Linked DNA regions of Homo sapiens: regions 2 and 3 are each reported to be linked to region 1. The links are microRNA targets in miRTarBase. Many come from high-throughput screens and were not tested one by one. Region 1 holds a microRNA gene; each other region holds the end of a gene's coding sequence.

Region 1 (3,354 bases):
CACAGTTTCAAGGCGGTCATTATTTATTTTCCATGTGACCCTACACGTCTCAGTTTTCTCATCTGTAAAATGGGGATGGAACTGCCTTCCCCTCAAGTAGGTCTGAGGCTGAGAGGGAATGATGCTGATGAAAGGTCTTAGTGAATAGCTATAGCTATACCAAATATTTATTTTGGGACTGGGTGTGTTGACTCACACTTGTAATCCCATAACTTTGGGAGACTGAGGCAGGAGGACTGCTTGAGGCCAGGAGTTCGAGGCTGCGGTGAGTTGTGATTGTGCCACTGCACTCCAGCCTGGGCAACAGAGCAAGACCCTGTCTCAAACATAATATAAATTTATTTCTAGAGCTAGCTCCATACAGAATTTCAAAGAACCTTGGGGCACTTGAGTACTGGCATCTATTTGTATACAAAACAGGATGAAACAGGATAAATCATTTCTTTCTCAATTTTTTAATTTTTTTTTTTTGCTGGGGGACAAAGAAGCTTGAACTTCTTATCTATCTACCTATCTATCTATCTATTATTTATTTATTTAGGGCTCACACCAAGCATTGGTTCCTCAGATACAAGTCAAAGATGAGGAAAATGGAGGCATTAAAATATTTGAAATCTGACTACAAAATGGCTGTGTTCTAAACGTCTTTGTTCCTTGAAAATTCATGTGTTGAAATCCTCCTCTTCAGAATGGAGGTCTTAGGAGGTGGTACCTTTGGGAGGTGATGAGGTCACGGGGGTGGAGCCTCATGAATGGGATTAGGGCCCTTATAAAAGGGTCTAGGGAGATTCCTCTCCCCTCCACTGTGAGAGGACATAGGGAGAAGCCCTGTCTATGAACCAGGAAGCCGGCTCTCACCAGATAGTGAATCTGCTGGTGTCCTGATCTTGGATCTCTGGGCTCTGGAACTGCAAGAAACAAATTCCTGTTGTTTAGATGCTTCCCAGTCTCTGGTATTTTGTTAGAGCAACTAGAACAGACTAAGACAGGTGCCAATCATAAAATATCAAATTTCTTCCCATGCTCAGAGTGCCACCAGCCATTTCTCCAATGGCTTGCATTTTCTACTCTTTCCAGAATTAGAGAGGGAGAGGAAGTCAGCTGAAGCCTGAGTCCTGTTAGGGCCACCTTGCTGTGTGAGTCACTGAAGTGTGGTTTTGCTGCTGTTGAGCATTGTTGGCTGGTTTCTGCAGATTTGGTAAGCCCCAGTCTCATTCAAAAGCCCCAAAAGTGAGACGCGTGTCTGGTCTCCTTGCTCCTGTTGGTCTGCTAGGCTTGTTCTACTAGGACACCTTTGGACACCTTCCCATGGGCGGTTCACAGAGGAAGATGCTGAGCTAGGGGTGTCAGGACGCCTCTAGTGAACTGGAAGTAGATCCCATTCCTTCCATTTCTCAAGATGCCTCCTCATCCCCAGTCCCCAAAGTGAATGACTGAAGTTTCTACTGCTCTGCAAAACCCAAGATAGGTCACCATTTTATTCCATTCTGATTCCCCCAGCAGACACAACCACCTGATTCCCCTTCGGAAATATTCTGCACCAAATGAAATCCGAGTGAGGTCATTAATTATGAAAATTCACAATGCGTAATTATAATAATTACTCTGATCACATAAACATTATACCACCATGAATAATTTAATAGGAATTGTGCTTTTGAAAAGCATGGCAATTAAAATAAAACCCAGGGAGGTGACAGAGACGATGCGGGAAATATATGCTCCAGTTTGTTCAGAGGAGGCTGTGCAGTCTCCAGAATGCTCACTCTTTGCCATAAAGAATCACTCTCGACCTTAGGAGGTTGGGAGACAAAGAAGGCAATGAGAGACCTGAGAGTTTACAAATGGGCTCCACTCCTGAGAAGTGGAGATCAAGAGTTCAAAGAGAGGCTGTTTTTCCCCTAAATAAAACAAGTTCAATCATCTTTATCTTTATCCCCCAGCAAAATAAAATAAAATAAAAAATCCTGATTGAAGAAGAAATGATTCATCCTGTCTGGACACCAATTCTCAAGTGCCCCGAGGTTCTTTGAAATTCTGTAAGGAGGTAGCTCTAGAAATAAATACAAGTTTTCTGGCCTCCCGATGGGTGGTGTGTACAACTAAGCAAAACAATCAGGGTGAAGGGATTACATTTTGCACTAAAAAGAAGAAATAAGACCAATTTACCCTGTGACTTTTATTAACCATGACAAAATCTTTTTTAAGTACCTTACTAAGTTTGTGAACAAGCAGCAATTTCTGCAATGAAACGGCCCCCTGAGATTAGGGAATTAAGTTATTTGGAATGGTTGGAAAGGAGAGTTTATACTGTGGAGAGGTGCAAAATGAGACCAGAGGGAGTTTGGACCCAGTTTTTAAAGAGGATCCTCTGTCCTCACTGACAGCAATCCAGGAGACACTACAGGTTCAGATTTGCACACTCCTTACCGTTCACAAAAAGCTGAACTATTATCTTGCTGTCCGGCTTTCAAATTTTTTGAAAATCAAGGTCTACTGTAAGAATCACATTTTACAACACAAGTTGGTGCTCGTGCTTGCATATACACACACACACATACACATACCTACACCAACACACAGAAAACACAGACCTACCATGTGAAATGTGCTCTATTAGGAATAGAATTTCTATGCTATTCTGTTTATGAAAGAAAACTGCTGACAGCAACAGTCTATCAAGTTAATTCCACTGTGTCATGATCCACAGTTCTTATTGTACACTTAACAGACACTTATGAAGTGCCTCATCTAGGTACTAGGGTACCTAGGTACTAAGTACACTTATGAAGTACCTCATCTAGGAATTTAGGTACCTAGGTACTAAGTACACTTAACAGACACTTATGAATACCTCATCTAGGAACTTAGGTACCTAGGTACTAAGTACACTTAACAGACACTTATGAATACCTCATCTAGGTACTAGGGTACCTAGGTACTAAGTACACTTAATAGATATTTACAAAGTACCTGCTGTGTGCCCAGCACTCATCTAGGTACCAGGGTTTCAGTACTGGCAACAGAGACAAAATCTATGCCCACGAGGAGCTTACATTCTACTGGAACAAGTTAGAAAAAACCATTGACAAACCCATTTCTTACAACTGCTGGGTGAGGAAGTTGGGCAGGGATTGTCAAAAACAGGTTCAGGTGGGGAAGTGTGGGCCTGTCTCCCTTGTACACAGCAGGAATCTCAGGGAGGCCGGCTTTGTTTCCAAGGCTTTCCTCTAAGTTTTGCCTTTCATTCTGTTTGACCACGATTCTTTTGACTGCAAGAAACAGAAAGCAAACTTGAATGTGCATAAGAAAAAAGTGATATTTTGTCAGAATTCAGCCAGAAAAACAAAACAA
Region 2 (3,000 bases), not on the chromosome of region 1:
TAAACCTGTTATGGATTTTAAATCGAGGTTTATTTATTGCTAAAATTGCGGGAAGTTATTAAGTCCTTTAAAGTCTTTCCATGTAAATTATATTTTAATTTTATAATTGGTATTAGGAATAAAGTGTTTTAATTTTTATTTTTATTTTCCTTTTTTAGGAGTTAACAGAGCAGTTTCATAAAGTTGAATCTCAACTGAATAAGCTAAATCATCTCCTCACTGATATTCTTGCTGATGTGAAGACAAAAAGAAAAACTTTGGCAAATAATAAATTACATCAAATGGAAAGAGAATTCTATGTATATTTTTTAAAAGATGAAGATTATCTGAAAGATATTGTGGAGAATTTAGAAACTCAATCAAAGATTAAGGCTGTTAGTCTTGAAGATTGAAAATTACTGAAAACTGAATCTTTATTACGTGTCCTCTTTTATTTATTAGAAGACTGTGTATAATAAACACTACTAAATTTTTAAAATTTGAGGTCAATGGAACATTTAATTTGATGAATTGAACTATTATATTAATTTGTCTTTTTTCTCATGTAGTACATTCAGAATACCAGTGCTTTTTATGACTTGAGCATGTGTTTAGTGGTACTTAGTCCTGGTAATTTTTTACTTACAGGGAAAAAGCATTATTACATAATGCAAATATTTTTTAATATAGTTATCTCTCTCCTTTTTAGAAATAGAAATTTTCTGCCGTTAAATTTTTTTTTGAGATAGAGTCTCACTCTGTCTCCAGGCTGGAATGCAGTGGCACGATCTTGGCTCACTGCAACCTCTGCCTCCCGGGTTCAAGTGATTCTCCTGCCTCAGCCTCCCAAGTAGCTGGGACTACAGGCGCACACCGCCACACCCAGCTAATTTTTTTGTATTTTAGTAGAAAAGGGGTTTCACCATGTTGGCCAGGATGGTCTCAATCTCTTGACCTCTTGATCCCCTCTCCCGGCCTCCCAAAGTGCCGGAATTACAGGCATGAGCCACCACGCTCAGCCGCTATTAAATATTTTAAAATGTGTAGAACTTCTAGTCAGCATTTTTAAATCTGTAGACCTTAATATGTGAAATAGCCAAGTCCCCTCATGTTTGACTGTCAAATAAAATTCTGCTGCTCAAATTGTATTCCTCCATAATTCCCTGCTATAGACCTTTAGGCTGTTTTAATGTCCCTACTTGTACCACAGAGTATTAGGACTTCCTTGGCCTGCCTGCATTCATTTTAGAGTCTGAATTCTGGGGACTCAAAAGTTTCTACAAGACAGCTGAGCAGTGCTTTGACTTTAATGTGACTTACACATCATAAATGACTTTCAAATGAAATTTGAATTTCAAAATTCTGTAAAAGTGGTTGCTCAAAAGATGTATGATACTATTTTAATCAGTTTAAGAGCAAAAATGTCTAATTGTATTTAACAATGGTATTTGGGCAGCCAGAAAATATTTTAAGCGTTGCTCTAAAATAATTTGAAGTAGCTCATCTGTTATTACATCAGATGCTTCTTGAGTGCCCAATTTATACATGGCCTGTGGTAAATACCATGTGAGCTTTGTAGGAATACCTTTAAGAATATTCCTCACCTGTTCGTAATATGGAATGCCAATCTAAAAACTACATGTTTTGGGTGGTCTTTATGGAATTTTTTAGCTATAACCATCAGAAAACAGGCATACCTAGATGACAGATGAACCTTCTTGATTTTTGAAACCCATTGAACAAAAATATTTTGCCAATTATTGTGTTTATGTTATTTAAAATTTTATGTAAACCTTAATTTTGTAGCAGTAAATTTTGTTTAAGATTTTGCTATCAGCTCCCTATCACCTGAGCAACTTTTTTTTTGTTGTATATGTTTTTTTCTATTCTATTTCGGAATAGAGAATTTACTTAAAATTTTTATTTTCTCCAAAAATGTGGAAAATATGTCACCTGGTTTCCTGGTTTATGGTAGCATATTCTGTTTAAATTAGTGTCACATATTTAGATGTGTGGCCAGACGCTTGATTTATTAGTTAATTTTTGAGACAGAGTCTAACTGTGTCACTCAGGCTGGAGTTCAGTGGAATGATCTCGGCTCACTGCAACCTCCGCCTCCCAGGTTCAAGTGATTCTCCTGCTTCAGCCTCCTGAGTAGATGGGATTGTAGGCGTGCACCACTGCACCTGGCTAATTTTTGTATTTTCAGTAGAGACGGGGTTTCACCATGTTGGTCAGGCTGGTCTCAAACTCCTGACCTCAAGTGATCTACCCGCCTTGGCCTTCCATAGTGCTGGCATTACAGGTGTAAGCCACCATGCCCCTGCCCAGATGCTTGATTTATACTGTCCCCACCCAAACCTTGACTTGCTCAGCCCAGGGGGCCAGCAGGGCAGATCAAGGCACGGATGGTAGTTGTGTGTCTGCCGTAATTACCCAAGTTACTTATAATCGTTGTGTTACTAGGTAGGTTTATTTGAAGATTTATTTATTTATTTATTTATTTTTTATTTTTTGAGACGGAGTTTCACTCTTGTTGCCCAGGCTGGAGTGCAGTGGCATGATCTCAGCTCACTGCAACCTCTGCCTTCTGGGTTCACGTGATTCTCCTGCCTCAGGCCTCCCGAGTAGCTGGGATTACAGGTGCCACCATGCCTGGTTAATTTTTTGTATTTTTAGTAGAGACGGGGTTTCATCATGTTGGCCAGGTTGGTCTCGAACTCCTGACCTCAGGTGATCCACCCGCCTCAGTCTACCAAAGTGCAGGGATCACAGGCATGAGCTTCCGCGCTCAGCCTATTTGAAGATTTAATAACATTTTTCAAACCTCAGGATGTATTTGAGTAGATTGCTTCTAAATTGGTCACCTAGAAAATAAGTTATCTATTTACTATGATACCTGGATTAAGCCTCTAGCTATTTTGCTTTTTTCTTTCTATCTATATTATTGGATGATTGATGCCTATTTTCTGTGGTTATGAATATAGACATTTTAAATGAAAGTTGGTATATAAATTTTTG
Region 3 (3,354 bases), not on the chromosome of region 1:
CTGATGTCTGACCAGTGGCTCTTGGCCCCTCTTGACAACCAGGGTCCTTCTGTCTGTTTGTGCCATGGCTCTGAAGAGGGTGGGGTGCCTGGCCCTCGGCAGGAAGCTGACTTAGCTTCCTAGCTGGAGCTGCTCAAGTTGGGCCAGTGCTTACCCTGCCAGGGTGTGTTGGGGCTTGAGCTGTGATTTTCTGTGTTGCAGGATGGCTTCTGTCTCCAAGGATGGTACATGGAAACTGTGGGACACAGATGTGGAATACAAGAAGAAGCAGGACCCCTACTTGCTGAAGACAGGCCGCTTTGAAGAGGCGGCGGGTGCCGCGCCGTGCCGCCTGGCCCTCTCCCCCAACGCCCAGGTCTTGGCCTTGGCCAGTGGCAGTAGTATTCATCTCTACAATACCCGGCGGGGCGAGAAGGAGGAGTGCTTTGAGCGGGTCCATGGCGAGTGTATCGCCAACTTGTCCTTTGACATCACTGGCCGCTTTCTGGCCTCCTGTGGGGACCGGGCGGTGCGGCTGTTTCACAACACTCCTGGCCACCGAGCCATGGTGGAGGAGATGCAGGGCCACCTGAAGCGGGCCTCCAACGAGAGCACCCGCCAGAGGCTGCAGCAGCAGCTGACCCAGGCCCAAGAGACCCTGAAGAGCCTGGGTGCCCTGAAGAAGTGACTCTGGGAGGGCCCGGCGCAGAGGATTGAGGAGGAGGGATCTGGCCTCCTCATGGCACTGCTGCCATCTTTCCTCCCAGGTGGAAGCCTTTCAGAAGGAGTCTCCTGGTTTTCTTACTGGTGGCCCTGCTTCTTCCCATTGAAACTACTCTTGTCTACTTAGGTCTCTCTCTTCTTGCTGGCTGTGACTCCTCCCTGACTAGTGGCCAAGGTGCTTTTCTTCCTCCCAGGCCCAGTGGGTGGAATCTGTCCCCACCTGGCACTGAGGAGAATGGTAGAGAGGAGAGGAGAGAGAGAGAGAATGTGATTTTTGGCCTTGTGGCAGCACATCCTCACACCCAAAGAAGTTTGTAAATGTTCCAGAACAACCTAGAGAACACCTGAGTACTAAGCAGCAGTTTTGCAAGGATGGGAGACTGGGATAGCTTCCCATCACAGAACTGTGTTCCATCAAAAAGACACTAAGGGATTTCCTTCTGGGCCTCAGTTCTATTTGTAAGATGGAGAATAATCCTCTCTGTGAACTCCTTGCAAAGATGATATGAGGCTAAGAGAATATCAAGTCCCCAGGTCTGGAAGAAAAGTAGAAAAGAGTAGTACTATTGTCCAATGTCATGAAAGTGGTAAAAGTGGGAACCAGTGTGCTTTGAAACCAAATTAGAAACACATTCCTTGGGAAGGCAAAGTTTTCTGGGACTTGATCATACATTTTATATGGTTGGGACTTCTCTCTTCGGGAGATGATATCTTGTTTAAGGAGACCTCTTTTCAGTTCATCAAGTTCATCAGATATTTGAGTGCCCACTCTGTGCCCAAATAAATATGAGCTGGGGATTAAATACGAATAAGACATGGTTTCTGCCATCAAAGATGGCTGGTGGGAGAGAGAGATACACCCTTATTAAGTGCTTTGTGTTAGTTTATTCATAGCTATTGTTATATATGTCAAGGCAAGAGAGGACCAGAGCAGGACAGAGGCAATGGGTATTGAAGTTGAAGGGGTACATTTGATAAGAGAGTCGGTATTGAGAAGTTTAAATTTGTGAATTTGAAGGCTGCGTGGGTGTGGCAGGTAAGGGAAATGAGGTATCTGGGAAGGCTTGAGTGTAGGCAAATTTATTCATCCCAAGTCAAACTCTTGATCTCTCTCACGAAAACTATGACCCCCCCTGGTTGCCCCTGACCTCTCAATGTTGGAACAAGCCACAACCGTGGAGTTATCCTTGATGACTCCCCATTCATTATCCCTTCTGTCCCACCACCACAGCTGTCATCTGTTCACCAGAACGTTCTTTTGGTTACACTCCATGTGACATCCTGAGGCTGTTGCTTCTCTCCAGCTTTTCTGTTACCATCCTGGTCCTGGCTACTGTCACCTAGTGGGCCACTATAATATGGCTTCCTAATGGATCTTCCTGCTTCCTCTGTTGCCTCATTACTTTTCTATATAGCAGAATGATCTTTTGAAAATGTGAACCAGATCACATTATTCCCTAGTTAAAACCCCCCAAGGCTTCCCATCACACTTGGAATAAAATCCAAAAGAATTTTTCTAAACCAAAAATAGTAAAAACAATTTTTTTTTTCTGACAATCTCTTGTCACCCAGGCTGGAGTACAATGGCGCAATCTCGGCTCACTGCAACCGCCGCCTCCTAGGTTCAAGCGATTCTCCTGCCTCAGCCTCCAGAGTAGCTGGGATTACAGGCATGTGCCACCACGCCTGGCTAATTTTTGTATTTTTAGTAGAGACAGGGTTTCACGATGTTGGCCAGGCTGCTCTCGAACTCCTGACCTCAAATGATCCACCACCCCCCTTGGCCTCCCCAAGTGCTGGGATTACAGGTGTGAGCCATCGTGCCTAGCTAAAAACACTTAATCCAAAATTCTTACCATGGCCTGCAAGGTCCTGTGTAACCTGGCTTCGTCCCCCCTCTAAATGCTATGAATGTCAGATGGGCACCGTAAATGTGTGAAGGGTCAGTTACCTGGGTGTAAGGCAGTAGAAGGTGGGGACAGAAGTGAGCTGGAGGGCGGGCTTGTGTCCTGCCTGCAGGATGGGGGGTGGCTGCTACTTATTCAGGAATCCAGCAGAAATTGCTTCACAGAAGCTAGAAGTGAGCAACTTAAATAACTAAACACTATCTGGACCAAACAAAACACTAAGGTCGGCCCGATGCAGTCCACTACTCTCTTATTGGCAGCTTCTGGCTCACTGTTGAACCCACTGGAATGAGAGCACCACCGGGCAGACTCCTGGACCATCCCACTGTCAGCTCTGTGGTCCAGGCACAGTACCTGGGACAGTGTAAGCACTCAATGTGAAACTCAAGCCAGGGGCAAGCCACAGACCTCCCAGTATCTTCTCCGCGCATCTTCCCACTCCCAGTCTCCATTGTGGTTTTGTATGTTCCTAACCACAGACTTTTGGCAATGCTGTGCACACAAGGCCTGAGGAGTATTTCCTTGGCAATTGTCAGAAGAATGAGACTAAAACACTTCCTTTGCGCACCTGTTCTTAGAAGCAGCTCTGGCATTACTCCCGTTGTGTATCCAGGACAGGAAGTGGCAGTAGAATGTTGAGTTACTGAAGTCAGATGTCTTCAGTTCCAGTTCCAGCTGGAGAGCAGATAGTAGGTCCGTTGACCTCTCTGAGCTTGTTTCCTCAGCTGCAAAATAAGAATGAATC

What was found. The annotated mature microRNA hsa-miR-3612 reads AGGAGGCAUCUUGAGAAAUGGA and lies in region 1 at 1,387-1,408, opposite strand. An mRNA with a match to its seed (bases 2 to 7 or 8) in the 3' UTR can be bound and repressed. Matches are read on the target gene's strand: a 7mer-m8 pairs with bases 2 to 8, a 7mer-A1 pairs with bases 2 to 7 and ends in A, and an 8mer does both.
Region 2: the mRNA of HAUS3 is a reported target of hsa-miR-3612. Seed matches in the 3' UTR shown: 7mer-m8 at 788-794.
Region 3: the mRNA of TBL2 is a reported target of hsa-miR-3612. Seed matches in the 3' UTR shown: 7mer-A1 at 2,348-2,354.

What each region holds. Positions count from the first base shown.
Region 1 is chr12:128,292,159-128,295,512 of GRCh38, reverse strand. MIR3612 (microRNA 3612) reads right to left here and starts at 1,421; the gene lies at 1,335-1,421. The region is part of intron 1 of TMEM132C (transmembrane protein 132C); the gene reads right to left.
Region 2 is chr4:2,229,319-2,232,318 of GRCh38, reverse strand. It overlaps HAUS3 (HAUS augmin like complex subunit 3), which reads left to right. Exons shown (of 6, transcript NM_001303143.2): 6 at 159-3,000. The coding sequence ends at 392. All of the region lies in intron 2 of POLN (DNA polymerase nu), which reads left to right. Among named protein-coding and RNA genes, the nearest start is that of HAUS3, 11 kb to the left of the region's middle.
Region 3 is chr7:73,567,820-73,571,173 of GRCh38, reverse strand. It overlaps TBL2 (transducin beta like 2), which reads left to right. Exons shown (of 7, transcript NM_012453.4): 7 at 202-3,354. The coding sequence ends at 667. Among named protein-coding and RNA genes, the nearest start is that of TBL2, 9.1 kb to the left of the region's middle.